3 linked regions of the Homo sapiens genome follow. The protein of the gene in region 2 interacts with the protein of the main gene of each other region in a pairwise test. Each region holds a gene or a part of one and is shown on either strand. Other genes may lie near its edges. The genes, in order: ZMAT4, ADARB1 and PNPT1.

Region 1 (9,940 bases), on a different chromosome or scaffold from region 2:
GGGGACTAAAAGTCAGAAAAGGCACATAAGCACATGCCCAAGTTCAAATCTGAGGGATCTAGCTCAAGTGCCAGAGCCCAGATAGTAAGATCACAAAGCCCTGGGACACTGCAGCATGTTTTCAGCATGGGTCAGAGCAGGACCAGCCAGAGCTAAAAAGCGAAGGCCGCCGTTTCCCACTCTGCTCCCCATCCAAACTCAGTCTGCCTCTGCCCAATCCCACTAGCAGGTGCCTGGAATTTGACTGTGCACATCTTTTGTTTTCTTTCCAACTTTTTAATTTTACGTCCGGGGGTACATGTGCAGGTTTGTTATAATGGATAAATTACACGTGGCAGGGGTTTGGTGTACAGATAGATTATTTCATCACCCAGGTAGTAAGCATAGTACCTGATAGGCAGGTTTTTGATTCTTACCCTCGTCCCACCCTCCACCCTCAGGTAGGCCCCTATTGTTCCCCTCTTCATGTCCATGTGTACTCAATGCTTAGCTCCCACTTATAAGTGAGAACATACACACATCTTTGATTTCCTTTAAGAATGTAAATACCTCTGTAAGTAGCAACACTATTAACTGTTCACACCTTAGTATGAATGAGTAGATTTGATCCTTTCCAACTATTAACAGATTTAGGGGTGAGAACAAAGAGCAAAGAAACTGAGAGCACAGCAGGCAAATTTCCCTGCATGCTAATGTTTCCAAGGTCAGCTCTGCGCATGGGGCTGCAGCAGGCGCAGGCCTCAGGACAGTGGCACAGTGAGGGCTTGCGGCTGGTGGGACTCTCCAGGTGTCAGACAGGACTGTGCTTCGAAGCATCTGCCCTGTCTGCCTCATGCAGGTCAGCTGCACCACTCCAGGTGCTCTGGTGAGGTCTGCATAGAACTGAACTTGGGGACAGGATTACCTCATTGCTCCCCTAGGGTAGGCTCCTATCACATTCCACAATTCCTGATGTCCCCTGGTTAACTGTTTCAGGAGTGAGGTGCACAAAACATCTACAATTAGATCTCCACCCTGGGGCCCCCTGAAATGACAGGAAGGAAGAAACAAAAAGTAACCAGGAAAGAGAGGTAACCCTACATGTAGGGTGAATGGAGGAAGGGAGGAAGGGGCACGAGCATGGGAAGGAGAGTGAGTAGGATGAATGATTTAGTCATAATTTGGGCTATGAAATTTTCCTAAATGAAAGATGAAGAGGGAAAATAGCAGAGTGTGGTGAATACATTTCAGGGTCTAGGTTTCAAAACAGCCTTCACCCCACCTTGAATACATGGAAATAGCGTGCTCCAACCTCTTCAACTTTCTGAGGTGTTCCAGAGTGTTTCAAATCTCCAGACACACCTTCCCCTAGGACAGGAAGGGAATTCACACATCCACAGAAAAAAAAAACAAGACATTGTAAAAGCGTTTACCAAAACAGCGAACACAATAGGCGTGCTTATTAGATTTCCCCAAAAGCACAAAATTAAATTTTAAAGCAGAAGGCAAAAAGGCTCTTCTCTGATAAAAATTTTAATATGTTTTCAGTCTTATTTCAGGGGACAATTTTCTTTAACAGAAAAATCAGCACAAAATGACAAGATCAAAGTAGGTTGGCAAAAGATTACTTACTGATATGTTTATGATGAAAAGGGATAACAGAAGGATGACAGGGATGGAGGGACAGAGGGGTAAGGAGAGGACTTTTATTTGCCAGGTAACTCACGCAGGGCTTGGAAAAGCAGAAAGACACAACCCCTTCCCACCATAGTGGTTAAAAGAGAGAGAGATCCAGTTTGGCCAATTGGGAAGAGGAGAAAACGCTGGGTCTGTGGATAGTGCTTATCCAGGGTCCTGGCCAAAGCCATCATGTTTGATGAAATGACAAGTAACACATTTAATTTCCTAGGCATTCATCGGTCCTTGCATACACAAACAGGCACGCAGCTTCACAAGGAGTTAATTAGCCTAACACCAGCAATTAGATTCTCCAAACTGGATCGCAGCAGAGGCGCTGGGTCCTGGGTTTCACACCTCACCCCATCCAAGGTGAAGCTGTAATGAGGGTGTTTTGCACTTTGTCAATTATTTTTCAGCTCCTAGGATCCTTTTTTGGTCTAAAGTTGTTATTTTAATGATCTCTGTTCCGAATGGGGAAATACAAGAAAGAGGATTGAGGAGGAGGCAGAGGGAAGGAAAGCGAGCGCTCCAGCGTGTCCCACTTGTACTTTCCAAGGCCCCCTCCGCCCCCTCCCCCCACACTGCCTCTTCCCTCTGTGCATGACTCACCCTTCAGGAGCTGTTTCAAATGCCTTACTTTTAATGTTTCCTATCACGATAGAAATCCAACAGATTGGCATCAATTAAAGGGAACCCCCAGTTTTGCAATCCTCAAACTCAAAAGCATTTTCTGGTTTCCTTACTGCCTTCATGAAAACCAAGGTGCTCTCATGCAAGATCCCCCACGTGCTGGGGGCTGCCCCTCCTGGGCTCCCTGGGGGTCACGTGCCCTGGAGAGGCCACAGAGGACGACGTCCATGACTAACCATGCCCACCGGCTGGGAAAAGTTCAGCTTCCGCTCCAGGCCCCCCAAACACAAAAAGATTATAATTGGCAGGGCTGCAAAATTGTTTTGTTTACTGTCAGATAGGAAGTACAGAAGAGAACGCTGATGGTATTTTGACACCCCCCCCAAAAAAAAAGTGGGCAGGCATTTTTTTAACCATTGTGAATAGAGTTTCAATAATCACAGTTCCCACCCAAAATAGCTGCCTACAGGAGGTGGAGGAGAATCTGTTGTGGTGGTTAAAGAAAATAAGAATTAAAAAGTGGAAGGGATTTGTGGAGCTGGAGAATCAAGACTGTCATCTGCATCTCCGTGGAAGGGTGCCCTGAGGAAGAGGTGTCACTGGAGAATCCCTCCCAGAACATGCAGTCTTGTCAGGACTGGGAATCGAACTCCCCAGCTGCGGGTTTAACGGAAATCAGAGGGATGAAAATCATCTAAACTCTTCAATGCCCCTAGGACTTGGAAGATCACCCCCAGACTATCAGCTTCAGAGTATCCCGCAGGTAGGCAGCGCAACTGGTGAAGTGCGGTGGGCACACAAGCAGAAGCTGCCTTCGCAGAAGAGGAAGAAAGTTCGAGACCAAGCACATCGCCTGCTTCCCCATGGGTCCCTGCTTCCTAGTGACTCACCTACCTAATATCTCCCTTTAGCAGAAGCCAAAGGCGGAGGAGGCAGGGGGAGAAAGGAGTTTCCCAAGGGTCTCAGAGCAAGAGAGGCCCCTGAGGTCTCGCGATTTAGAATGCTCAAGGGTGCTTCTGGGCTGAACCAGCTGCCTGCCGGGGTGAGCTGTTTTACTTCAAGAGCAGTTAGCAGAAGCAGTGTGGATGGTGACTTCAGCACCACCTCTGCCACAAATGCACCTGTGCACCAAAACAACCTGCGCACCTACACGGAGCCACCCCCTCCACCAGCCTCCACCTCCCAGAGCTGCGGGGATGCTCCGGGCCAGGCACCCCTTCTGGGGACAAGGGTGTAAGCTTCACATGGTACCAAACCGAACTCTCTATCCCGTTTTTTGGCTTTTTCTTTTTTTTTTTTTTTCAGGATACCCCAAGCCTGGAAAGTCTTCCAGAGTTTTCGGGAGCTAATTAATTATGTGATTTCCTCTCCTCTGAGAACTGTTTTGCTGGCGTGTCACCAAGTTGTCACGTAGGTGCCCACCAGGTCAAACAGAATAGACCATCCTCACCCACCCACCCCGGGGAATGTCTCCTTCCACCAAATAAAATGAACTGAGACAGGCAGGAAGGAGGCAGAAGTTTGAGGAAGGACTCCAGTTGAAGGTCACAATAGTTTGGGGAAGGCAGATCAAGGTAATACGAAGGGGACAGACCCTATAGCGGAAAACACAAACAACCAATCACGTTTCTCTCGGAACCAGCCTATCCATGATGGGTGCACCAGGAAACAGCACACCCTGGGATCCAACTTCTTTCACCCAGCACACCCGAATCTCCACCCCAGCCCTGCAGACACCCTAGCCTGAGACCAGACCTATTTAGACAGACCTGAGCGCAGCTAATTAGGAGTAGTAAACAAGCCCATTTCTTGCCAGCGCAGAAGTTTCCCAAATTGTCCGCTTGTTTTCCTCCCAACAAAAGACAGTGATTTCCCACCTTTATCACATTCCCTCCCAGAAACTTTTCTTTCTGCAATCCCTCCACCTAGGCTAAACTGCAAAGCCACTGGCAATGGAGACGCAGGCGCTGCACCCCCGGGACGCAGGCAGAGGTACCTTTTCCGCGAGGCAGAGGGGCCGCCGGTGCCCAGAGGCCAGCTGCCCTGCCGAGCAGTAGAGCGAAGCTGTGGGCTGGAGCACGCTGAGGATTACACGTTCCTGTCTCTGCGACCAGACCTTTCGGCAGCTCGGACCAACTGTGCTAGCGATGCACTTAGCAATTATCTGCTGGCTCCGACGCCCCGCCCTCTGCTCTTGCGATTGGCTCTCCAGTCCCGGGCAGGACTGCATTGGTTTCAGCCGACCTCACTCATTGCTTTGGCTCCTACTATTATCTAAGCCATCAAAGGAAATAATTCCATGTTTCATTGACAACCTGTAAGGCTCTCCTCCAGCCCAATGTGGGGGCAGGACCGGGAGGCCAGTGGAGAGAGGGGAGAGGAGTAGGAAAATGTGGGGGAGCGGGGTGGGGGAAGGAGGTGGAGGGGAGAGGAAAAGAAGGAGAAACTGTGGGGGGGTAGGAGGGTAGGAGGGAGAGAGAGAGAGAGATGGAGCTATCAAGCAATCAGATTCTTGCTCTAGCATTTTAACTTCCACAAAACAGAGCCCATAGCAACAATTTTCTGGCTTTATTTTCCCCCTAACTGGTAAATGTTGCTGAGGGCAGAGAGAATAATAACTATGGGGTGTCTGCCGGCATGAGACAGACTCTAGAAAGCCGAGCAAGGTTGAGGGCTGAAGGGATGGAGTAATGCTTTTCACAGGGCCACCCTGGAGGACATGTGAAGGACATGGCAGATTGCTTGGGGAGCATAGTAGGTGCATACCTGGAGTTTATCTATCAGTACTTTATCTCACAGTCCCCCTCATCCCCCAACCTGAGGAGACAATTTTCCTTTGCACCCTGTCCAAAGAGTCTCAGAAGAGCTATTCTTAAAATCCATAAAACTCTGGAGTTTCTCACTGTTCTCACTGGGAGGTCCAGAAAGCCGAGCATTCTAGAGTGAATGATTCTGCTGGGACCCTCACTTTGGTTTATTCTGACATGGCTTAAATTAATCGCTTAGACTTTCATCAACAACCTACGCACGTGAAGAGAGAACATACCCATCAAAGGGTGGGGACAGCTTAAACACTTTTCCTTGTTCACCAAGAAATCATAAAGTCTCACCCTAGTTAAAATGGCTTTTATCCAAAAGACAGGCAATAACAAATGCTGGCAAGGATGTGAAGAAAAGAGAATGAACCCTCCTACATTGCTGGTGAGAATGTGAATTAATGCAGCCACTATGGAGAACAGTATTGGGGTTTGTCAGAAAACTAAATATAGAGCTACCATCTGATCCAGCAATCCCACTGCTAGGTATATACCCCCAAAAAAGAAATCAGTATCTTGAAGAGATTCCTGCACTGCCATGTTTATTGCAGCTCTGTTCACAATAGACAAGATCTGGAAGCAATGTAAGTGTCCATCAACAGATAAATTAGATGAAGAAAATGTGGTACATATGCGTAGTGGAGTACTATTCAGCCATAAAAAGGAATGAGATCCTGTCATTTACAACACCATGGATGGAACTGGAGGACATTCTGTTAAATGAAATAAAACAGGCATGGAAAGACAAACTTCACATGTTTTCATTCATTTGTGAGAGCTAAAAATTAAAACAATTGAACTCATGGACAGAGAGAATAGAATGATGGTTACCAGAGGCTAGGAAGGGGCGGGGGTGGAATGGTTACTAGGTACAAAAATAGAGTTAGATAGAATGAATAGGATCTGGTATTTGACAGCACAACAGGGTTATTACAGTCAGCAAAACATATTGTACATTTTAAAATAACTGAAAGAGTACAATTGGATTGTTTGTAACAAAAGGAAATGCTAAATGCTTGAGGTGCCAGATACCCCATTTACCCTAATGTGATTATTACACATTGCATGCCTGTATCAAAATATCTCGTGTACCCCATAAATATATACACCCACTATGTTCCCATAAAATTAAAAATTTTTAAAAATTAAGAAGAAATCATAAAGCACAAATTTTGACCTTCCCCTCTCCTTAATGTATTTGTCACCATATGGAAAAGACATCACTTGGCAGCTAAATTTTCTTAACTAGGTAAAATATTTATTATTAATGTTTCTAAAATGAAAGAGCTTTTATAAATCAATAAGTACAAGACCTATAACCCAATTCAAAAATGGCAAAGGACAAAATGGGCTGAATTTTTTAAGAGAGAATTATAAAAGCGTCTTTTAAAGAAAGCTTTTAAAATATCAAATTTCAGATGATCCAGAAACTAACCCTTCAGCCTTCTTATCCTAGGATCTCCATGTCTTTGGTGAGGCTCTGGTCCCAGTCCTGCCCTGGCCTCCCCTGGGGCCTTGAATGGCTGTAGTCCTTATCTTCAGCTGCGTCCTCTGCAGCAAATGGCAGGTGCCCCACTGCCTTGTATGGTGACTTTCTATTTCATGCATACATGCCTGGCTTCCCTAAATACATTTCAAGCCCTGTAAAGACAGAGATGGTATCATGCATATTTTTATCACTCCACAGATAGCACCTAGCACTCAATAAGTGGGCTGACTACTAAAACCCAATTCAAAGCATCCAGGGTGCACAGCCCTAAGCCTCATGCGACCCTCATTCCACTGCAACTACTCTTCCAGCAGAGCAGAGTGTGGAGGGGGCCCACTCTGGAGTCCAAGAGCTAAAAATTCAGGACTAACCACTGTGAAATGCCTGTGAAATGCGGCAGCTCCAGAGTCACTCGAAGCTCTCTGTGTTCTCTCTGGAAAATGAGGCAGGTCTTCACCCAGTACCTTCCTCCTCCCTCAAGCATTTGAAGGAAATGAAAGGATGTGGGATGCACATTTTACTTGTGAGGCATGACCTCAAAAAATGAAGTCCTTTCCATAATGGCTTTCCAAATATCAGCATGAGTAGGAGACAGTGACCGTATATTAGGAATTCAAAACTAGGGCAAGGGATGTAGCAAAATATTTGTTTTCTATTTCATTCCTTTGTCTAGGTGAAATCACACAAAGGCACAATAATGAAACTAAACTTAGCTATACATTTGAAATTGACACTGTCCTAGAAAATCTGGTGTGTTCAGTCATGGTGTAAAAACCATAAATAACACTTTTATTATTTAAGCAGTATGATTTTTACTTTCGAGTGAAAGTAGGCTTCAGCTTTGTGCCTTCATACTATCTCTTTTTCCACCCCCCTTAAGAAAATAAGAGAAATAAACTAAATTATAAGAACTCTCTTGAGTATCTATCAAAGGTTTAGTTGTCCCTGAAGGAAAGGGAAAACATTTCAAGTGATTTTCTAAAATGCTTTGTCTAAAACAGCATGTCCTTACATGTACTTTTTGCCTTTTGAAGATGAGAGAGAGAGAAAGAAAGAGAGCAAGCCTCAAACAGTTGTTTATGTCAGTGTCTTTTAAACTGCCTGGTCATAAAATATCCTCTTTGAGAGAAGGATTCTCCCTTTGTGTCCCATAGATCAACTGCTTAATTCTGAGAGTTAGAGAATGAATATTAAATATGCAGATTCCACTGGTACTTGCATTTGTATTAAATATCAGCTCCATACAATTTAAATTCACTGGGGTATGAAATGTACCAAATTCCATGTTGTGGGCCATACTCGGCAAAGCAGTCCATTTTGATTTAACAGTTTCAGGACATTAATGGTGGGAAAGACTTTTGGGGGTTCCTGTTCCATTTTGAGTAATTAGGGAAAGAATGTGGGTTTCTTTATTAAAACACAAATTAGACAGCAGCCGCCGGAACCTCCATCATTCTTGTGGGTAACCACTTGCTACAACAAATGACCATGACCTACCGTGGGAGGCTGGAGAAATCTTGCATTTACTTGTCCGTGTATGCCATTTTCTCAGTTATCATTTATTTATGCCAAATTCTGTTTCTAAAAGGGAGAAGAGGAGAATAAATCTAGGCAATGCCAAGAAAGAGGAAAATGTGTGAAAACAAGAGGAAAACAAAGGGGGTGACTTTCAACACTACATCTTTGCTTATTGACTTCAGCCCTACAATACCATTTCAATGAAAACATAATATTAGCAGGATTTCTTGAACCTAGCATTGGAAGAATGAAAGGTTGTTCAGAAAACTTCTCCCAGCACAGTCTCCTAAGTAGAGAAACTTGGAAGAACATTTTCATAGCTTTCTGTTCTAGCTGATAGCTGTTGTGAAATCAAACTCCCTCCCCCTCCACCCACACCCCCACTCCCACCATGAAAATCAAACCTGTGGAGCCAGTGACATTTTGACAAAGCGTAAGAGGAGACTGTGGCTGCCAGGAGGGTGTCAGTCAACATGAACCATTCTTAATGATTTCATTAATTATTAATGAGTCTTTAGAAAGTTGGTATTAGAATATACAGGCTTCATGAGGTTTGAAAACAGTAAGGATATTTTATTATTTAACATACCCTGATGAATAAAGCAGGTGATTTTGTTTCTTTAAATCACAATCACATTTATTAGTGAGCCAGAGTTGTAAATAATCTGAAAAAGAGAAAGAGGAAGACAGAGACAGGGACAGATGGAGAGGTAGAGAGAGACTTGCAAAGCTAGATTGCCCACCTAAATTCTGTTTTACTTCAGTTAAATTCTTCATAAGAAATATGCAGCTGAAAGATGTCATGAAATATTATCCAGCGATGCAACAATTGACAGGGGTAGGGGAGCTGAATTAAGAAGGTCAGCTTGCCTTCTGTGAGGCTGGCAGGCCATGTGTAGTGTGAAGCACCCTTCTAGAATAAAGGTCTGCACACATGGAGACAGCTGTTGGACCCCTGCCAGACAGGACCCACGTTCTAACATAGCTGCTTTCTTGAAAGAACCCATTGAACATGTGTTTACAACACCTGCCACACACCATTTCCTCATTTATAAAGCAGAGTGATCATTGTTTCTAAGGCTGTTGAGAGAATGATGGCAAATAAACCTACAAAAGAAGACGCAGATGTCCTGCCCTTGATGTTAAGCCTAGTGACAATAGCAGGAATGTCTTGGCATGGGTCAATATTCTTGTGATGCATAGCCACTTGGCTGTCCTAGACCAGATGTTACATCCGCTCTTGGGGTGGGACCTGAAGATGCTCAGAGGGGCAGGAAAGCTGCTCTGGACATAGGGGCACAGCTGCGGGAAATTGTTGCCTAAGGAAATTCTCAAACTGTTCCACTGATTTATGCTGCTCTGTAAGAGAGGACCTGCGAATGTGAAGGTGTCATCCAAGTGATCTGCCACAAGCCAGAATTTCTTCAAATGTGCATGCTTTATTATTCAAATCATGTGGACTTTCTATTCTACTCCAAAATGTATCAACTTTGATATATGAGTTAAAGAAATGATTTGGGCTCGGTGCAGTGGCTCACACCTGTAATCCCAGCACTTTGGGAGGCCGAGGGACCAGCCTGGCCAACATGGTGAAGTCCCGTCTCTACAAAAAATATAAAAATTAGCCTGGCGTGATGGCACACACCTGTAGTCCCAGCTACTCAGGAGGCTGAGGCAGGAGAATCCCTTGAACCCAGAAGCCGGAGGTTGCAGTGAGACGAGATCACTCCATTGCACTACAGCCTGGGTGACAGAGCAAGACTCCAACCAAAAAAATAAATAAATAAAAATTTCTTGTTTCCATGGCGCAGACCCTTCCAGCCCCTTC
Region 2 (10,070 bases):
TTTGAGGCCATCCTGGGCAATGTAGTGAGACCCCATCTGAAACAACAACAACAAAAAATGAGATGAGCATTTAGTTCATTTTTCAGTTTGCTAGTGGTGACGTTAAAAAAAAATTAAACCAACTTTGCATCTTGGGATAAACGTTATATGGTTATTATGTGCTATTCTTTTTATATATTGTTGGATTCAGTTTGCTAAAATTTCATTTAGAATTTTTGTATTTATATTTGTCTGTAGGGATATTGGGCTATCATTTTAGTTTAATGTCTTTGTCAGGCATAAAATGAGTTGGGGTGCATTTCTTTCTCTTCAGTTTTCTGGAAGAGTTTGTTTGGATTTGGTATTATTTCTTTAAATATATGGTTAAATTCACCAGTGAAACCATTGGGCCTGAAGTTTGCTTTGTAAGAAAATTCTAACTACAATTTATTTTTCTATAATAGATTTAGGGCTATTCATGTTATCTGTTTTTATCTTTTTTCTTGAGTAAGCTTCAGTAATTTGTCTTTCAGGGAATTTGTCCATTTCATCTAATTTGTCTAATATATTGGCATAAAAGCATTCAGAATATTCATTTTAATATCTGTGATATCTCTAATGATATCGTCTTATCCCTTATATTGATGATTTGTATCTTCTCTTGGTTGTTTTTTTCTGATCAGTCTAGCTGGAAGTTTTTCAATTCTGTTTGTCTCTAAGTGCCAACTTTTAGGTTCAGTGATTTTTGTCTTTTGTTTTATATTTCAATAATTTTTACTCTGATTTTAATTATTTCTTTTTTTTCCGCTTACCTGGTGTTTCAATTGCCCATCTTTTTGTAGTTTTTTAAGGTGCTAGTTGAGGTCATTGTTTTAAGACCCTTTTTACTGCTTTTGTAGCATTTAAAAATTATGATATGTTTTCATTTTCACTTATATTAAAATACTTTGTCCCTTGGGTTATTTAGAAGTCTGCTATTTAGTTTCAAAATACTAGGGATTTTACAGAGATCTTTCTGTTGTTGGTTTTTTAGTTTCATTTAATGACTTCAGTCCTTTTAAATTTATTAGACTTGGTTTTATGGACCAGAATATGATCTATCTTTATAAGTGTTCCACAAAACTTGAAAGAATGTGAATCTGCCACTTTGGGGTAGAGTGATCTGTAAATGTTGATTAGGCCAAGTTGTTTGATTATACTATTTATTTTCTTTTATATTCTTACCGATCTTCTACTTGGTCTATCAGTTATTGAGAGGCAGGATTGAAAATCTCTTAGTTATAATTGTACATTATCTATTTCTTCCCCTTTTTTAGAGTTTTTACTTCCTGTATTTTGTAGCTCTGTGATTAGATGCATAAAAATGTAGGATTGTTGGTTTATCTTAATAAACCGACCTCCTTTACCATTATATGATGACCCTCTTTATTTCTGGTAATAGTGTTTGTTCTGAAATTTGTTTTGAGATTAATATAACCTCCTCAACTTTCTTTTGATTAGTGTTAGCACAGTGTATCTTCTATCCCTTTATATTAAAGTACTTTATCTTAAAAATATGTTTCTTATAGACATATATTTATATATATTTATATGTTTGGATCTTGCTTCTCTCTCCCACCATGGACAATCTCTGCCTTTTCACTGAGGTACTTAGACCATTTACATTTATTGTGATTATTGATATTATTAGGTTTAAATTTCATCTTGCTACTTATTTTCTACGTGTTTCATATGTTCTTTGTTCACTTTTTCCTCATTTTCTTACTGCTTTTGCCTTAATTGGGTGTGTTTGATGATTCCATTTTGACTCCTTCTTGACTTTTGAGCTGTAACTTTTGTTAATTTGGTGGTGGTTTTTAGGGTTTATAGTATGCATTCTTACCACGATCTCCCTTCAAGTGATATTATACTACTTCACATATAGTAAAAGAACCTTACAACAGGATACTTTCGTTTTTCCATTCCCAACCTTTGTGGTATTGTTTTCAGACACTTTTGCATGTGTTAAAAAAATCCACATCTTATTATTTTCATCTTAATAATTATCTTTTAAAGGAATTTAAATAATAAGAAAAAAACCTCTTGTATATTTATCCATGTAGCTATCATTTCCAGGGCTCTTCATTCTTTGTATAGATCTGGATTTCCATTTTGGTATCATTTTTTCTTCTGGCTGGAGGACTTCCTTTTACATTCCTTGTAGCACAAGTCTTCTGATGATGAATTATTTCAGCTTTGGTATGTCTGGGAAAGTATTTTGCTTTCATTTTGAAGTATATTTTGCTGTACAAATATATTTCTGCTGGAATGGCAGGGTCCTTTTTCTCCTTTAAGCACTTTAAAGACATTGCTTCCCTGACTTGTTGTTTGCGTTGTTTCCAGTAAGAAATGTGTTGTTATCTTTATTCCTCTGTGTGTTTTTTGCTCTGGGTTTGCTTAAGATTTTCTCTTAATACTAGTGTTGAACAATTTGTTCTGTTGTGCTTTGGTATATAGTTTTATTCATGTTTCTTGTGCTTGGGATTCATTGAAATTCTTTAATCCATGGGTTTGTTGGTTTCATGAAATTTGGAAATTTTTTATTCATCTTTCTTCAGATATATTTTCCGTTCCCCCTTCTCTCTCCTCACCGTCATGAAATCTAATTACACATATTTCACCCTACCTAAACCTGCCCCATATCACTGATTTTCTGTTCTTTTTTTCTCTCTTTGTGTTTCATTTTTGGTAGTTTCTGTTACTGTGTCTTTAAGTTCACTAATCTTTTCTTCTGCGGTTTCTATTCTGTGGTTAGTCCCATCAAGTGTATTTTTTATCTAATACATTGTAGTTTTCCTCTCTAGAAATTTGGCTTAGGCCTTTTTATATCTTTATGTCTGTATCTTCTATATGTGAATGTCAGGCACTTTTCCATTCTCTCAGGAGGCTGTTTCCCAGCCTTGATTGAGTAACATGCCTACTCTGATCAGTGCTCCGCAGGATATTCAAGGACACCCTCTGCGTATCTCCAGGGCTCACTCTGTCTGCATGTCTCTTCCTTCCGGTACTCTGTCTTATGAAATCTGGCTGACTTGGTTTCCCTTGACTCTCAATTCAGGGGATCTGCTACACTCTGCCTGGGTTCCTTACTCTGAACAGTGAACTGTCATCTGGGTTTTGATATCTCTCCAAGGGAGGGATAAATGGTCATTGAAAGCAAGTGAGCATGGTGACGGGGTGGGGGTGGCCTCCACAGGGCACGAAGTGAGTTGTACTGAGTCATCTGAGAGTGCAGTGTGCTGCTTCTGGCCAGTGGGCTTGACAGTTCAGTGTCTGGGTTCAGAATATGAGTCTGCCCATGTTCTAAGCATGTTCTAAAGATTCATATCCCAAATTAGTTTTGATTTTGGTGGCCTATAACATCCATGTGATATGAATTATCAAGCTCAATATATAAATGCAGATACATGTATTCAATTCCGAGTTATGCAAGTGTCTTTTTAAAAACTTTCAACCCTGCAGAATTAGCCTGTGATTAGTTAAGATGAGATCGTTTAAACACAGCAAGAAAATAAGTACAAGGGTACTTCAAAAAGTTCATAAAGTTAAAAGATAAAAAAATGTTTAAAGATATAAACATTATTTCTCAACATAAGCTCCATCAAATTCAAGACATTTTTGTAAGTGCTGATCCTAGCCATTTAGATTGTCCCTAAAGAACTGAATGGTGGCTAGGTGTGGTGGCTCATGCCTGTAATCCCAACACTTTGGGAGGCCGAGGCGGGAAGATCATGAAGTCAGGAGATTGAGACCATCCTGGCCAACATGGTGAAACCCCATCTCTACTAAAAATACAAAAACCAGCTGGGCATGGTGGCACGCGCCTGTAGTCCCAGGTACTTGGGAGGCAGAGGCAGGAGAATCGCTTGAACCCAGGAGGTGGAGGTTGCAGCAAGCCAAGATCGCACCACACACTCCAGCCTGGCAACAAGAGTGAGACTCCGTCTCGAAAAAAAGAACTGAATGTCTTGGGAGTTTAACCATGTCAGTGCAGTCTTTCTTACATTAGTAACTGAAGAAAAATTCCTTAAGCATGCCCCTTAAGGAATTTTTGAGATTAGGAAACAAAAAGAAGTCAGAAGGAGCCAAATGAGGTGGATTTGCAACCACCATAAGGTGGATGGCTCATGATTTCCTCTCGAAACCCTCACACACTTGCCCTTGTTTGATGAGAGGAATAAATAGGCGCTTTGTCATGGTGAAGGTCTCTGGCGAAGCTTCCCCAGGGGGTTTCTGCTAAAGCTTTGGCTCACTTTCTTGAAACACTGTCATCATAAGCAGATATTACCATCCTTTGGCCCTCCATGTGAACCCAACAAGCAAAACGCCTTGAGCATCCCAAAAATGCTGCCATGGCCTGTGCTTTGGCCAGTCAGCCTGTGCTTTGACTGGGCCCCTTCTGCCTCTTGGTAGCCTTTTTTTTTTTTTTTTTTGGATTATGCATTTTCTTCAGGATTGTCTTTGTAAAAGCTATTTTTATCTCCTGTTTGATGTTTGTTCTTGCTTCAATTTTAGCAGAAGTCATGTAGCTCTGATAGGAGCGCTTTTCAAACAGATGTCTTAATCTTCTTAGTGCCTCAAACTAGATCCTATTCAGACATGTTTCAGCAAGTTAGTACAAGTTTATTTTGGTGCCAAAAAATTTTGAAATCCATGAGGTTTTTTCATAATAAGCATTTTCCATGAACTTTTTCAAGACTCTTGTTAAGAATTAGGGTTTCCTATTGCATCATGGATGTCACACATGCAAAGCCACGTGACCTGAACATGCCTGGCCTCTCAGTGGCAGGGGAGCACATGCAGGCATGAGCGCCAGAGGTGGTGTGATACAGGAGCAACCCCCACCTGCACGACCTCATGGGACCCTGCATTAGTCTCAGAAGTGGCTCCCACCCATCCACTCTCAGGCTGCCAAGGTTCCTGGCTCCGTCAGTGCCAGAGTGAGAAAAGACACACTTGTCAGGAAGTCTCATGATTTCAGGTTTCTGTCAATCTTCTGCCCACCTGCCCTGTCAGACAAGTGCATACCCGTGGGTCAGTTCTGCTTTCTCAGCACTGCTCCTATTCTGGTGGCCGTGGAAGAGTGTGAGGCCACTGCCACGGCAGATGCACGCTCAAGTCTGCGTATATTCCTCGGCAGGCAGAATTCCCCCACCACGCACTTCTGTGGCCATGTCTGAGCACAGTGTGCCGCCCGTGGCTGCTCCCTCCCTGGGGGTGAAAGCGGGCTTCACACCACCTTCCTGTGTCTTCCGTTTCAGGCATCAGCAATGCAGAAGCACGGCAGCCAGGGAAGGCCCCCAACTTCAGTGTCAACTGGACGGTAGGCGACTCCGCTATTGAGGTCATCAACGCCACGACTGGGAAGGATGAGCTGGGCCGCGCGTCCCGCCTGTGTAAGCACGCGTTGTACTGTCGCTGGATGCGTGTGCACGGCAAGGTACTGAGGCGCCCTCACCGCAATGCGCCGGCTCCACCTCCCCAATAGCTTGTCTGTCCTCACACCTACTGTTCCTTAAGTTGTTTCATCATGTCATCATGCACAGCTTCCGAAAACGATCACTTGGAATGATTCTTCCTTCAGATTGTTTTAGCTTAGAAGTGTGGCTACGTCCCTGAAACCTTAATGCCATCTCAAAGGCAGCTCTTTTCCTCCCTGCTGCAGGGTAACACCCACTGCCAGGCCACTGTGTGTGGTGGAAACGTCTCTTACTCTCAGATATTGAAAGTCATTATGCAAAACGCAGGGCCAGTCACCCTGCTGTCCCCTCCTTCTCAGCAACATAAAAATTGCTTGGATTGTGATAACCCTCCAGTGGAGTTTTTAAACCTTTTGAATTAGCTGTGGGGCCCTTTTTTCCCCAGAATAAAACTTTATATAGTAAGTCAGGGTATTACTAGTTTGTGTGTATTCTTCAGTCAAGTAGATGGCATCTGTTTATTCTGAGACCAGCATTGTGCACTGGCATGGGAGGTATAGCCAGAAGGGACAGTGCCCGGGAGGGTCCTGTTCACCAGGGGCAGCACCCAGGCCAGCTGCCACAAGTCCAAGGTCCACACAGAAGGAGTTACTGGCCGCATGAGGGAAGGCCTCCGAGGTCATCAGGGTGATGACACACATAACATCCGTGGTGCTTCTTAGAGTTAAAAATGAAACGTGAATCCACTATTGGTGGTTTCCCAGAAGCATGTCTTCAGAACTCGGGGGTCTGTAGCTGCCTGTTTGACCAGCAAGACTGGAACTTGGCAATAACTCAGCCCTTAGGAGACGCCGCACCTTGTTCTGTGTGAAGCCGTTCCCTTGGCAGAAGGCGCCTTCCTCTGGGTTGCTTTCCCCCCAGAAGCCAATGCAGTTCTGAAGGCCATGTTTTGGTATCTTATTAGGTGTTGTTTTCATCTGTTACAGCGTCAACAGTTGCATTTGTTTTTTTATCCCTTCACAGGTTCCCTCCCACTTACTACGCTCCAAGATTACCAAGCCCAACGTGTACCATGAGTCCAAGCTGGCGGCAAAGGAGTACCAGGCCGCCAAGGCGCGTCTGTTCACAGCCTTCATCAAGGCGGGGCTGGGGGCCTGGGTGGAGAAGCCCACCGAGCAGGACCAGTTCTCACTCACGCCCTGACCCGGGCAGACATGATGGGGGGTGCAGGGGGCTGTGGGCATCCAGCGTCATCCTCCAGAACCTCACATCTGAACTGGGGGCAGGTGCATACCTTGGGGAGGGAGTAGGGGGACACGGGGGACCACCAGGTGTCCACGGTTGTCCCCAGCATCTCACATCAGACCTGGGGCAGGTGCGCAGTGTGGGGAGGGGATGGGGTGCGTCAGGGCCCAGCATCGCCGCCTGGCATCTCTCTGCCGCAGCATTTCCCCTTCTGAACCGTCCAGTGACTGCTTTCAATCTCGGTTTACGTTTAGAAATTGAGTTCTACTGAGTAGGGCTTCCTTAAGTTTAGGAAAATAGAAATTACTTTGTGTGAAATTCTTGAATAAATAATTTATTCAGAGCTAGGAATGTGGTTTATAAAATAGGAAGTAATTGTGTCAGGTCACTTTTATGCCACATTATTTTAATTGCAAAAAAGCATCTATATATGGAGGAGGGTGGGAAAATAGAGGTAGGAAATAGTAGCCTAAAGGAAATCGCCACACGTCTGTCTAAACTTAGGTCTCTTTTCTCCGTAGGTACCTCCCTGGGTAGTTCCACACACTAGGTTGTAACAGTCTCTCCCTGAGGAGCAGACTCCCAGCATGGTGTAGCGTGGCCCTGTCATGCACATGGGGTCCCGCAGCAGTGACTGTGTGTCCTGCAGAGGCGTGACCCAGGCCCCTGTAGCCCTCAGCCTCCTCTAGAAGCTTCTGTACTCCTTGTAGGATCAGATCATGGAAAACTTTTCTCAGTTTACTTCTAAGTAATCACAGATAATACATGGCCAGTAATCCCAGGCTGGCCATTCATTCAGGTTTTTTAAAGGATATTTAACTTTTATGGACTAGAAGGAATCACGAGGGCTACTGCACAATACATGGCCTAAGTTCCCTCTGTTCCTTCCTCTGAATCGAATGGATGTGGGTGACCGCCCGAAGGCCTTCACAGGATGGAAGTAGAATGATTTCAGTAGATACTCATTCTTGGAAAATGCCATAGTTTTAAATTATTGTTTCCAGCTTTATCAAAGACATGTTTGAAAAATAAAAAGCATCCAAGTGAGAGCTGGTGAGACCACGTGCTGCTGGCGTAGTGTAGGCCAGACATTGACAGTCCTGACGGGAGCTCAGGGCTGCCCAGCGCCCAGCGTGCACGGGACGGCCCCACGACAGAGGGAGTCAGCCCGGGAGGTCAGGAGCGCGGCGGGCGAGGGCCCTGTGTGGACCACCTCCACCAAGCTCAGAGATTTGCACCAGGTGCCTTGTTGCCTCCGCTCAGGATGAAAGAGGAGCTGAGAGAAGTGCTCTGCCTGCCAGTGCAGTGCCCAGCTCCAAGGCTCTAGAGGGTGTTCAGGTGGGTCTCCTGGGGCCATGGGGAGAGATTGGTGCAGACCTTACCCCACAGCATACACCTGCCACAGCGAAATCCAGGGTGTTGGCACCTGTGTGTCCGTGATGAGCCTAGGAAACCAGAGCAGGGGCAGAGGGGCGTCATCCTCCCACCGGACGCTGGGAGCTCAGACCCCAAAACTGAAACACCGTGGCTTCGGCGGGGGGTGTGCCTCCTGATGTCAGGAGCCCCATCCACGTGTGTCCACACAGATCTCGTCGCAGCACGGCAGGAAGGGGTGCTGCTTAGGGCTCATTGTTGGGGACATGACCGGGTTCAGCGGCTAGAACATCTGCCCCACAGCAGCCTCCTCCTCCACCGAAGAGGGTAGTTGTCTCCCTGAAGCAGTCACAGCAGGCGTCTCTGCCGCTCCGTCACCACAGTGGGGTTTTGTTCAGGCAGATCGCGCTGGGGTTCTGCACCTGCAGAAGGAGAGGGGTCTGTTGTCGCTGGCTTTCCCCCAAGCAGGCTCTTGCACACTCTAGAAAAAACACCTTGTAAGTCTGTGCATTTTTATTGTCTTGATAAATTGTATTTTTTTCTAATGGGGATTGGGAGATGGACTTCGTTTTTAAAAATATGTGGATTTTGGTTACCAAGTTTAGTGTTAATATATTCCATATACATACAAAACTACCCGGTATGTCTGGCTTTTCCCTTCTGTCAGGTAATAGCTAAAGTCAGCATGATTGCTCCCTGTACCACCCCAAATAAGTGAGTGCCTCACCTTGTGGGGCCTGAGCAGCTACCTTGAGACCATGTGAGGTGGCACCTTTCCGGGGTGGACTCGTGCGGCCTTGAGGACAGGCACAGGGCACCCTATCCCAAGCCGTCCAGGCAGGAGGAAGGCAGCCAAGGCAACTGGGTTCTGGGAGCCCTGGGTGGGGCAGCTGTGGGGAGGAACTGGGTTCGGGGAGCCCTGGGCGGGGCGGCTGTTGGGGGGAACTGGGTTCGGGGTGCCCTGGGCAGGGGGCTACTGGGGGGCGGCTGTGAGGAGGAGTTGGGTTCAGGGAGCCCTGGGCGGGGTGGCTGTCAGGGGGAACTGGGTTCCGGGAGCCCTGGGCCGGGGCAGGGGGCGGCTGTAGGAAGGAACTGGTTTCGGGGAGCCCTGGGCGGGGCGGCTGTGGGGAGGAAGGTGACGTGCAGGGGACCAGAGGCTCTGCACTGCTCCTAGGACAGCTCATCTGTAATCAGAAAAAAAATAAACAAAATACAGAACGCTGACTCCTCCGTGAGACAGATCGGGGACCTTAGCACTTTAATCCCTCCCTTCTGAGCGCTCGGTGTGCACTTTTAGACTATAGCTGTTTCATTGACGTGTCACTCTCCATCCAGTGTCCTTGATGTGGCTTTTAGAGACTTAGCAGAAAATTCGACACAAGCAGGAACTTGATTTTTTAAGAAAAAATATTACATTTTGAGGACATTTTGACAAGTAGGGGAAGAGAGGGCTTCTGTTGTTTTGTTTTGTTTTGTTTTGTTAACTAAACCTGAAGTATTAATTCCACAAAGACACTGTCCCTCAGGACCACTCAGGTACAGCTCTGCCAGGGACAGAGTCCTGCTAGTGGGAGGTCTCAGGTGGGGCGGTGTGTTCTGTGCCATGAGGCAGCGACAGGTCCAGATGGATGTCGTCACCACCTTCCTCAGCTCTCATCACCTGGTCGTACGCCAGGCCCACCTCTTCCCAGCAAGGGACGCCAAAGAACTGCAGTTTTTATTCTGAGTCTTAATTTAACTTTTCATCATCTTTTCCTATTTTGGAGAATTTTTTGTAATTAAAAGCAATTATTTTAAAATGTGCAAGCCAGTATCTCACAAGGCATGGATTTCTGTGGAATTTATTTTTATTCAAATAACCATATTTATCTCCAGGCTGTGGAATCGCCACTTTCTTTGTGAAGACAGTGTCTCTCCTTGTAATCTCACACAGGTACACTGAGGAGGGGACGGCTCCGTCTTCACATTGTGCACAGATCTGAGGATGGGATTAGCGAAGCTGTGGAGACTGCA
Region 3 (10,070 bases), on a different chromosome or scaffold from region 2:
TCCCAGCTCTTTGGGAGGCCAAGGCAGGTGGATCAGGAAGTGGGGGGTTCGAGAGCAGCCTGACCAACATGGTGAAACCCCATGTCTACTAAAAATACAAAAGTTAGCCAGGCATGGTGGTGCATGCCTGTAATCCCAGCTACTCAGGAGGCTGAGGCAGGAGAATCGCTTGAAGCCGGGAGGCAGAGGTTGCAGTGAGATGAGATCGCACCACTGCACTCCAGCCTGGGCGACAGAGCGAGACTCCATCTCAAAAAAAAAAAAAGCCAATTTCAGTCTCAAAGCATTTTTTTTGACCAGCTAGAAGAGCTTGTTTTTTTAGGATAAGAAAATCCCTCTTTTAAGAAAAAGGAAATTATCAAATGTAGCAAAAATGTTCAAAGCTATTTGAAATAAAATAAAAGGCAAGGAGATAATTTGTTTAATATTGCAGGTGAAAAATAAGAAATGGGATGGCTTATTTTCATAGATTAGAGAAAAAAGGGAAGATTAGTTTTTTAATGAAATAAGTATTCCATTTTACCTGACCACCTTCCTTAAATCCTTACCTTACAGGTTAATCATATGAGATTCTATACTATTTTTAAAATATTTAATGTCATTTCGAAAATTTTTGGAAAATCGAGACCAGCCTGGCCAACTTCGTGAAACCCCATCTCTACTAAAAATACAAAAATTAGCTGGTCATGGTGGCACATGCCTGTAATCCCAGCTGCTTGGGAGACTGAGGCATGAGAATGACTTGAACCTGGGAGGCGGAGGTTGCAGTGAGCCCAGATGGCACCACTGCACTCCAGCCTGGGTGGCAAAAAAAAAAAAAAAAAAAAATGTTTTTGGAAATTGTTAAGAGAAATACAGAAGAACATATATTCTAAAAGTTTTTTTTGTTGAGACGGAGTCTCACTCTGTTGCCAGGTTGGAGTGTAGTGGCACGATCTCGGCTCACTGCCACCTCCGCCTTTCGGGTTCAAACAATTCTCCTGCCTCACCCTCCTGAGTAGCTGGGATTACAGGTGCGCGCCACCAGGCCCAGCTAATTTTTATATTTTTAGTAGAGACGGGGTTTCACCATGTTGGCCAGGGTGGAGTTGATCTCTTGACCTCGTGATCTGCTCACCTTGGCCTCCCAAAGTGCTGGGATTACAGGTGTGAGCCACCGCACCTGGCTCTAAAAGCTTTTCTATTGCATGTTTTTTCTTTATCTTTTCTTCATTCTTTGATTCACACATATTTATTTATAGGGTATATTTTCAGTTGAAAAGTATACTTTTTATAGTTCTAAAAACGTGCTAGAATTGTTTCTTTTCGTTTTTTACTTTTTCCTCATATGAAAACAATGTTTTATTTGTCAATGGATATACAGATACTTATTATTTTAACCAGGCTTACTATTTATTTTTTTGTAGAGATACTGGTGTAATGGTAAAATTATATCCAAATATGACTGCGGTACTGCTTCATAACACACAACTTGATCAACGAAAGGTAAAAAGACAGATGTTATTGTTATTATTTTTATAACTGCCTTGAAACACTGTATTGAAATTACCTAGGTTGGTAAGAATTATACACTTTGCCTACTACTAGCCTAAACAGAGAAAACAAGTGGCAGAGATGCTGCTGGCAAAAAGTTTTACATTGTTTAGCATAAAGAAAAATTGGCTGGGCAGGGTGGCTCATGCCTGTAATCCCAGCACTCTGGAAGTCCGAGGCGGGTGAATCACAAGGTCAAGAAATGGAGACCATCCTGACCAACATGGTGAAACCCAGTGTGTACTAAAAATACAAAAATTAGCTGGGCGTGGTGGCGTGCGCATGTAGTCTTAGCTACTCGGGAGGCTGAGGAAGGAGAATCGCTTGAACCCGGGAGGCGGAGGATGCGGTGAGCCAAGATTGTGCCACTGCACTCCAGTCTGGCGACAGAGTGAGACTTTGTCTCAAAAAAAAAAGAGTGTCTGTTTTACCATATATTAAAATATATTATAAAGCCATAGACAATAAAATAGTATATTACCGGCCCAGAAATAGATAATCCATGCAACAAGAAAACAAAAACTAGAAATAATATACATGGGATTATAATATACGCTAGAAGTTGTATTATAGTCAGTGAATAAAGATTATTTAATAAATTATATTGGTACAGCTGGTTATCTTAAAACAGGATCTCTACTCATTTTTATACCTAAATCCTGTCTGGATCAAAGAGCTAAATGTGCTTTTTAAAAAAGGTGGTAGGAAAAGATAATCTTGTTGGGGCAGGAGGGTTTACTAGAAGAAAATTGGATGTTTTAATAAGATTAGTAGTGGAGAACTCCTCAACATGATATCAAAGCCAAAAAAGTAAATAAACTTACAAAATTTGACCCCATAATTTTTTAATTATATGGCAAAAATTTCAATAAGGTTAAGAGATAATCAGCAACCTAAAGTAAAAATGCTTATATGCAGAAGCTTAATTTACAAAGGGCTTTTATAAATCCGTAAGAATGATGAATATCAATAGAAAAATAAGTAAAGAACATGAACAAATTATTTTTATAAAAAGCCAACCAAGATATTTAATATCAACAGCAATTTTTGAAATGCAAATGAAATTAAGATATCAGTTTTAACTTTCAGATAGTTTAAAATTCTCAGTGTGTATAAGAGAAAAGATGGACATTTTCATACACTGTTGATGGGGGTGTGAATTGGGACAAACTTTTTAGAGGGTGTTTGGTAAATGTCTATGGACCTAGACATTGTAGGATTTTATTTGGAGAGGATAATTAGAGTAGATGAATTCATGATTTGTGCTACACTGCAACTTATTTTTTTTCACCTTATTATTTTGAAAAGTTTTTAATGTACAAAGAAGTTGAAAGAATGATACACTAAACCCTCATATATCTTTCTCCTATATTCATCAGTCATTAACATTTGCAACACTGGAATTTAAAGCAATTTATTGTCTTTAGGTGATTGTTTAAATAAACTATATAGTTTGAAACTTAACGGTAATTCTTAATTTATTGATATGAAAAGATGTCCTTGGGCCAGGTGCAGTGGCTCACGCCTGTAAGCCCAGCACTTTGGGAGGCCAAGGTGGACGGATCACTTTAGGTCAGGAGTTTGAGACCAGCATGGCCAACATGGCAAACCCCCGTGTCTACTAAACATAGAAAAAATTAGCTGGGCATGATGGCGTGCACCTGTAATCCCAGCTACTCTGGAGGCTGAGGCAGGAGAATCTCTTGAACCTGGGAGGAAGAGGTTGCAGTGAGCGGATATCATGCTACTGTACTCCAGCCCGGATGACAGAGCGAGACTCCATCTCAAAAAAAAAAAAAGATGTCCTTAAGATATACAGTAAGCACAGAGGGTCCATTTTTATAAATGCCGTACACATACACTAAGTAGACATCTGAAGGGATACTCATTGGAATGTTAGCAGTAGTTATCTACAACTTGAGAGGGTTTTGAGACAGGGTCTTGCTCTGTCACCCAGGCTGGAGTATAGTGGCATGATCACAGCTCACTGCAGCCTCAGCCTCCCAGGCTCAAGTGATTCTCCCACCTTAGCCTCTGGAGAAGCTGGGTCCCCAGGCACAAACCGCTACACCCGGCTAATTTTTTTGGATTTTTTGTAGAGATGGGGTTTCTTCACGTTGCCCAGTCTGGTTTAAGCAGTCCTTCCACCTCGGCCTCCCAAAGTTCTGGGACTACAGGTGTGAGCCACTGTACCCAGCCTGTTTTGGATAATTTTTATGTTCTTAATACATCTGTATTTTAAATCTTTATAATTAACTGATTTTTTTTTTTTTTTCTGAGACAGAGTCTGACTCTGTCGCCCAGGCTGGAATGCAGTGGCATAATCTCAGCTTACTGCAACCTCTGCCTCCCAGATTCAGGCAATTCTCCTGCCTCAGCCTCCCAAGTAGCTGGGACTACAGGCGTGTGCCACGACACCCAGCTAGTTTTTGTATTTTTAGTAGAGATAGGGTTTCACCATGTTGGTCAGACTGGTTTCGAACTCCGGAGCTCAAGTGATCTGCCTGCCCCAGCCTCCCAAAGTTCTGGGATTACAGCCGTGAGCCACCATGCCCAGCTGATTTTTTTTTTTTTTTTTTGAGACGGATTCTCTCTCTGTCACCCAGGCTGGAGTGCAATGGCGTGGTCTCGGCTCACTGCAAGCTCCACCTCCTGGGTTCACGCCATTCTCCTGCCTCAGCCTCCTGAGTAGCTGGGACTACAGGCGCCCGCCACCATGCCCGGCTAATTTTTTGCATTTTTAGCAGAGATGGGGTTTCACTCTCCTGACCTCCAGAGATGGTCTCAATCTCCTGACCTCTTGATCTGCCCGCTTCTGCCTCCCAAAGTGCTGGAATTACAGGCTTGAGCCACTGCGCCCAGCCGCTAACTGATTTTTTTAATCAGAAAAACTAATAAAGCTTGAGGAAAAAATGTGTACTTCCATGGACACTACATAATTATGCACAACAACTAATAGATTAACATTTTTTTTTCCAGATTAAACATCCTACTGCCCTAGGATTAGAAGTTGGCCAAGAAATTCAGGTATTTGTATTCCACCTTTTAGCCTTGAAGTTGTAAATTGTTCTTGAAGCTTCCATTGTTTTTTTCAAAAAGTTGAAAGAAGAGTCACCATCTATGAAGTTTTTTATTTGTATGCAGTACTTCATTTTTAATCTTAGAATTGCTTGAACAGACTCATTAAGGATTTAAGACACAATTCTTTCCCTCAAGGAGCTTGCAGCTTGGCCAAAATGGTAGTCACCCTTAGTTCGTTTAAAAAATACATGAGCATGTTAGTGTTAGCTATGCAGACTCCATGATTTGGGCACTGACGTAAGAACTGTGATAAGGTAACTTGTTAAAGTCTTTGAATGTCATCTTTGAGGAGGTGAGACTTTGTTTCTCCACTACTTAAAGTTTTTGAGCTTGGTAAGAGCCATGTTATTCAGGCCTAGAATTCATATAACAAAATTGGCCCTTTCTTTGTAGTCCTTTATGAGTGGATGAAAGAAGTCATTGCCAGTCTGTTTTTTCGGGCTCCACCACATTGTCTTTCACTTACGCTAATACGCATGACCTGAGTAACTAAGGCTTCTGGTTTATTCCCAATGTGTAGTCTTATTGTCCAAGTAGCCTCCAGGGGAAGATGAGTGCTAAGATATAGTATCTCTGTATAAGGTTGATTTTTTGGTTTATTTGTTGTTGTTGTTGTTGTTGTTGTTTTCACATCAGAAGGAACTTTAAACCTTTGCATTTGCCCCTGACTTTCATTTTCCAAGGTGAAGCCAAATAAACACTAATGTGTTGGTCCTTTGAGCAGTAGTGAAAATCCAAGTGACCTAAGCATAATCCTCTATAGTATATAACACAATTAGGCTCTCAAAGCCCTTGTCTAGGATCATTCACTATGCCTGTGACTGTTCCCCCAGTATAAGGACTTGGCCTGGTGAGAATAAAAAGGCACAGATGAGTTCAGCGGCAGATTATAGTTGAACAACTAACTGCCCCGTCTCTTTTCTCTTTTATAATGACTACTTATATGTGTTAAGTGTATACGTCCACTTAGCACTGAACAATGCTTTCAGTGAACAAGTAAAAACAATCATTGCCTTATTTGGACCATGTAAATTTAAATGTCTATTAGTTTAGATGTCACTCAATGTGCTGTAACTTTAAAGGAAGATCTGTTTCTTTAACACAGGTGAAATACTTTGGACGTGACCCAGCCGATGGAAGAATGAGGCTTTCTCGAAAAGTGCTTCAGTCGCCAGCTACAACCGTGGTCAGAACTTTGAATGACAGAAGTAGTATTGTAATGGGAGAACCTATTTCACAGTCATCATCTAATTCTCAGTGATTTTTTTTTTTAAAGAGAATTCTAGAATTCTATTTTGTCTAGGGTGATGTGCTGTAGAGCAACATTTTAGTAGTATCTTCCATTGTGTAGATTTCTATATAATATAAATACATTTTAATTATTTGTACTAAAATGCTCATTTACATGTGCCATTTTTTTAATTCGAGTAACCCATATTTGTTTAATTGTATTTACATTATAAATCAAGAAATATTTATTATTAAAAGTAAGTCATTTATACATCTTAGAAAAAATTACATAGTTTTGTTTTTACAATTCTGAAATATATGAAAAACTTAGATAGAATATGTCATATGTTATTATAACAGATCTCTTCCTACATCTTATTTTTCTTCTTTGTATACAGTAGTGACAGTTTACCTTCAGTCATCCTACAGGTCACCTCTGTGCCCAACAACTTTACTTGCCTACAACGGTTCACAAACTGGAACAGGCCATATTCAAAGCCAGTGCCTATTTCTTCAGAACTGTTAACAGATATAGTGAGTTGAGGGAGCTAATCTGATACACTTTTGATAATATAATGCCTTTCAAATTAGTTACCAAATCATAAACAGAGTGGAATAAATATAAATGAGATTCTAACTAGGATGAATGTGGTAGTAATGATGTATATTTTTCAAATTTACCTAAACAGAAAGATTATTGGCTAAGGCAGGCGGATCATGAGATCAGGAGATCGAGACCATCCTGGCTAACACGGTGAAACCCCGTCTCTACTAAAAGTGCAAAAATTAGCCGGGCGTGGTGGCGCATGCCTGTAATCCTAGCTACTCAGGAGGCTGAGGCAGAAGAATCACTTCAACCCAGGAGGTGGAGGTTGTAGTGAGCCGAGATTGCGCCATTGCACTCCAGCTCAGGCAACAAGAGCAAAACTCCGTCTCAAAAAAAAAAAAAAAATTGTTTACTTATCAAATTGAACTAGGTCAATTTGAATATGTGTATTGCTCTAATGTATGGAAGTTCTTAGTATAAGAGCTGAAGGATCATGACTTTCGGTTAATAGATGTTTGAAATAGATGTTTAGAGGTTACTGATACACATGTCAAGTTGTTCATTCCCATCATTTAAAATATCACCTTATAATTCCACAGAAAAGTAAATGGTATGTGGACGTCATAATTTAGAATGTGTAATCTTTTTTAAAATCTTATAAAAATACACTGGACTCAGTGGTACGTGCCTGTAGTCCCAGCTACTTGGAAGGCTGAAGTGGGAAGGTCACTAGAGCCCAGAAGTTCGACACTGTAGTGTGCAACAATCATACCTGTGAATAGCTACTGTACTCCAGCCTGGGCAACATAGCAGGACTCTTATCTCTAAAAAAAATTTTAAATCTTATAAAAATGTAGGTATATCTGGCCAGGCATGGTGGCTCACACCTGTAATCCCAACACTTTGGGAGGTCAAGGCGGGTAGATCACCTGAGGTCAGGAGTTCGAGACCAGCCTGGCCAACATGGTGAAACCCCATCTCTACTAAAAATACAAAAATTAGCTGGGTGTGGTGGCGGGCGCCTGTAATCCCAGCTACTCAGGAGGCTGAGGCAGGAGAATCTCTTGAACCTGGGAGGCAGAGGTGGCAGTGAGCTGAGATCGCACCACTGCACTCCAGCCTGGGCAAAAAGAGTAAAACTCCATCTCAAAAAAAAAAATGGTGGGCACAGAAGCTCATGCCTGTAATTCCAGCACTTTGGGAGGCCGAGGCGGGTGGATTACATGAGGTCAGGAATTCAAGACCAGCCTGGCCAACACGGTAAAACCCCATCTCTACTAAAAATACAAAAATTAGCTGGGCATGGTGGCAGGCACCTGTAATCCTAGCTACTCGGGAGGCTGAGGCAGGAGAATCACTTGAGCCTGGGAAATGGAGGTTGCAGTGAGCCGAGATTGCGCCATTGCACTCCAGCCTGGGCGACAGAGCAAGACTCCGTCTCCAGAAAAAAAAAAAAAAAAGGTAAATTCATGACTCAGGGTTAACTAGTTCATAAAATATTACAAATTTATCTGGCTAAACCAAAGATTTTTAAGTCAATAAACATTGATTATATATCTATTGTGTGTAAAATAGCATGTTAGGCAATGTTGATATACTTCTGAAATATTAAAGATTAATTGAAAATGAAAGATTAAATTTATTTGCTTTCTACACTTGATATCGACTATTATTTAATAACAGTAACAAAAGTTTTTATTCTCACTTCTGCTTTCTAAGACATAATTCTTATTTTAAGATATCATCCTTAATGGTAGAATTTCAAAATTGCAATTTGTGTTTTTCTTAAATTTTCTGTTTTCTTTTTCAAAGGAACTCCCAACTCCTAATAATATGGAAAATGAAGCCAGTTCTTAAACAAACTCCAGAAACCTGAACTGACACAAAGTACAAATACAGCTTACTAACTGCAAACCACCAAAAGAACACCATTTCTGCTTAAACCAAGAGCCTACACTTTATGTCTGAACTTTTCTTATTTTTGTCTTCATTTAAATGTTGGTAGTTTTCCCTACTTTCCAATGAAGTTTTTCTTTTTCTTTCTTTCTTTCTTTCTTTTCTTTTTTTTTTTTTTTTTTTTGAGACAGAATCTCACTCTGTTGCCAGGCTGGAGTGCGGCGGCGCAATGTTGGCTCACTGCAACCTCCACTTCCCAGGTTCAAGCAACTCTCCTTCCTCAGCCTCCCTAGTAGCTGGGATTACAGGTGCCCTACACCCGGCTAATTTTTGTATTTTTATTTTATTTTTTCTTATTTTTTTGAGATGGCATCTTGCTCTGTCGCCCAGGCTGGGGTGCAGTGGTGCATTCTCAGCTCACTGCAAGCTCCGCCTCCCGGGTTCACACCATTCTCCTGACTCAGCCTCCCCAGTAGCTGGGACTACAGGCACCTGCCAATATGCCCGGCTAATTTTTTTTTTGTATTTTTTAGTAGAGACGGGGATTCACCATGTTAGCCAGGATGGTCTCATCTCCTGACCTTGTGATCTGCCCACCTCGGCCTCCCAAAGTGCTGGGATTACAAGCATGAGCCGCTGCGCCTGGCCCCAATGAAGTTTTTCTATGACGGCTATATTATATGCTGGAAACACTAATTTATAGTGACTCAGATCAAACTGAATGCCATCTTTGGTGGTTAGCTCAATACAAGTACTTAAAAGTAAGACTTTTTTTCCCATGACTTTTGTTTTGATACAGGAACACACATACTCCATAAGTTACTGTTCTATCACAGTACAGTTTTTATATAATCATTTTTTCTTCTATTACAGAATATCTTACATTCTTGGATCTAAAATGAAAACATGAATATCTTTCTTAGTTCAGTTCAGCCAAGCATAGCATTCTTTTATTCATCATTTAACATGTGCCAGGCATTATAAGGTATGCAGGGGATGTGTCAGTAAATAAAAGACCTAAGTTAGGCCGGGCACGGTGGCTCACACTTGTAATCCCAGCACTTAGGGAGGCTGAGGCGGGTGGATCACCTGAGGCCAGGAGTTTGAGAACAGCCTGGCCAACATGGAGAAACCCCGTCTCTACTAGAAATACAAAAATTAGCCAAGCGTGGTGGCACATGCCTGTAGTTCTAGCTACTCGGGAGGCTGAGGCAGGAGAATCACTTGAACCCGGGAGGCAGAGGTTACAGTGAGCCGAGATCGTGCCACTGTACTCCAGCCTGGGCAACAGAGCAAGACTCCATCTCAAAATAACAAAAACAGACAAAACAGCTAAAGTTCCAATGCTCATATTCTAGAGTTTGGAAATTGATAGCAAATTACGATACAGCAGGTCCTTGAATAACTTTTTTTTCAACATCATTTGCATTAAAATGTTGTTGAGAAGGAAACAAAACATTGATTCCTGGCCAGGCTTACCGTCTGTGTGGAGTCTGCACTTTTTCCCACGTCTGCAGGAGTATATTAGTCCATTCTTGCATTGCTATAAAGAAATACCTGAGGTTGGATGCGGTGGCTCATGCTTGTAATCCCAACACTTTGGGAGGCTGAGGCAGGTGGATCACCTGAGGTCAGGAGTTCGAGACCAGCCTGGCCAACATGGTGAAACCCCGTCTCTACTGAAAAAAAAATACAAACGTTAGCCGGCCATAGTGGTGCACGCCTGTAATCCCAGCTACTCAGGAGGCTGAGGCAGGAGAATCGCTTGAACCTGGGAGGCAGA

What was found.
Region 1: the proteins of ADARB1 (region 2) and ZMAT4 interact in binary tests that used the Homo sapiens proteins (3 or more experiments, as listed by UniProt).
Region 3: the proteins of ADARB1 (region 2) and PNPT1 interact in binary tests that used the Homo sapiens proteins (3 or more experiments, as listed by UniProt).

What each region holds. Positions count from the first base shown.
Region 1 is NC_000008.11:40,893,398-40,903,337, forward strand, and holds the start of ZMAT4 (zinc finger matrin-type protein 4), read right to left. Parts: upstream 4,430-9,940; 5' UTR 4,286-4,429; intron 1-4,285.
Region 2 is NC_000021.9:45,215,557-45,225,626, forward strand, and holds part of ADARB1 (double-stranded RNA-specific editase 1), read left to right. Parts: intron 1-5,279; coding exon 5,280-5,458; intron 5,459-6,461; coding exon 6,462-6,641; 3' UTR 6,642-9,990; coding exon of another isoform or gene 9,991-9,999; 3' UTR 10,000-10,070. UniProt on the Homo sapiens protein: Catalyzes the hydrolytic deamination of adenosine to inosine in double-stranded RNA (dsRNA) referred to as A-to-I RNA editing.
Region 3 is NC_000002.12:55,632,042-55,642,111, reverse strand, and holds the end of PNPT1 (polyribonucleotide nucleotidyltransferase 1, mitochondrial precursor), read left to right. Parts: intron 1-1,406; coding exon 1,407-1,485; intron 1,486-4,512; coding exon 4,513-4,560; intron 4,561-5,719; coding exon 5,720-5,875; 3' UTR 5,876-8,051; downstream 8,052-10,070. UniProt on the Homo sapiens protein: RNA-binding protein implicated in numerous RNA metabolic processes. Catalyzes the phosphorolysis of single-stranded polyribonucleotides processively in the 3'-to-5' direction. Mitochondrial intermembrane factor with RNA-processing exoribonulease activity.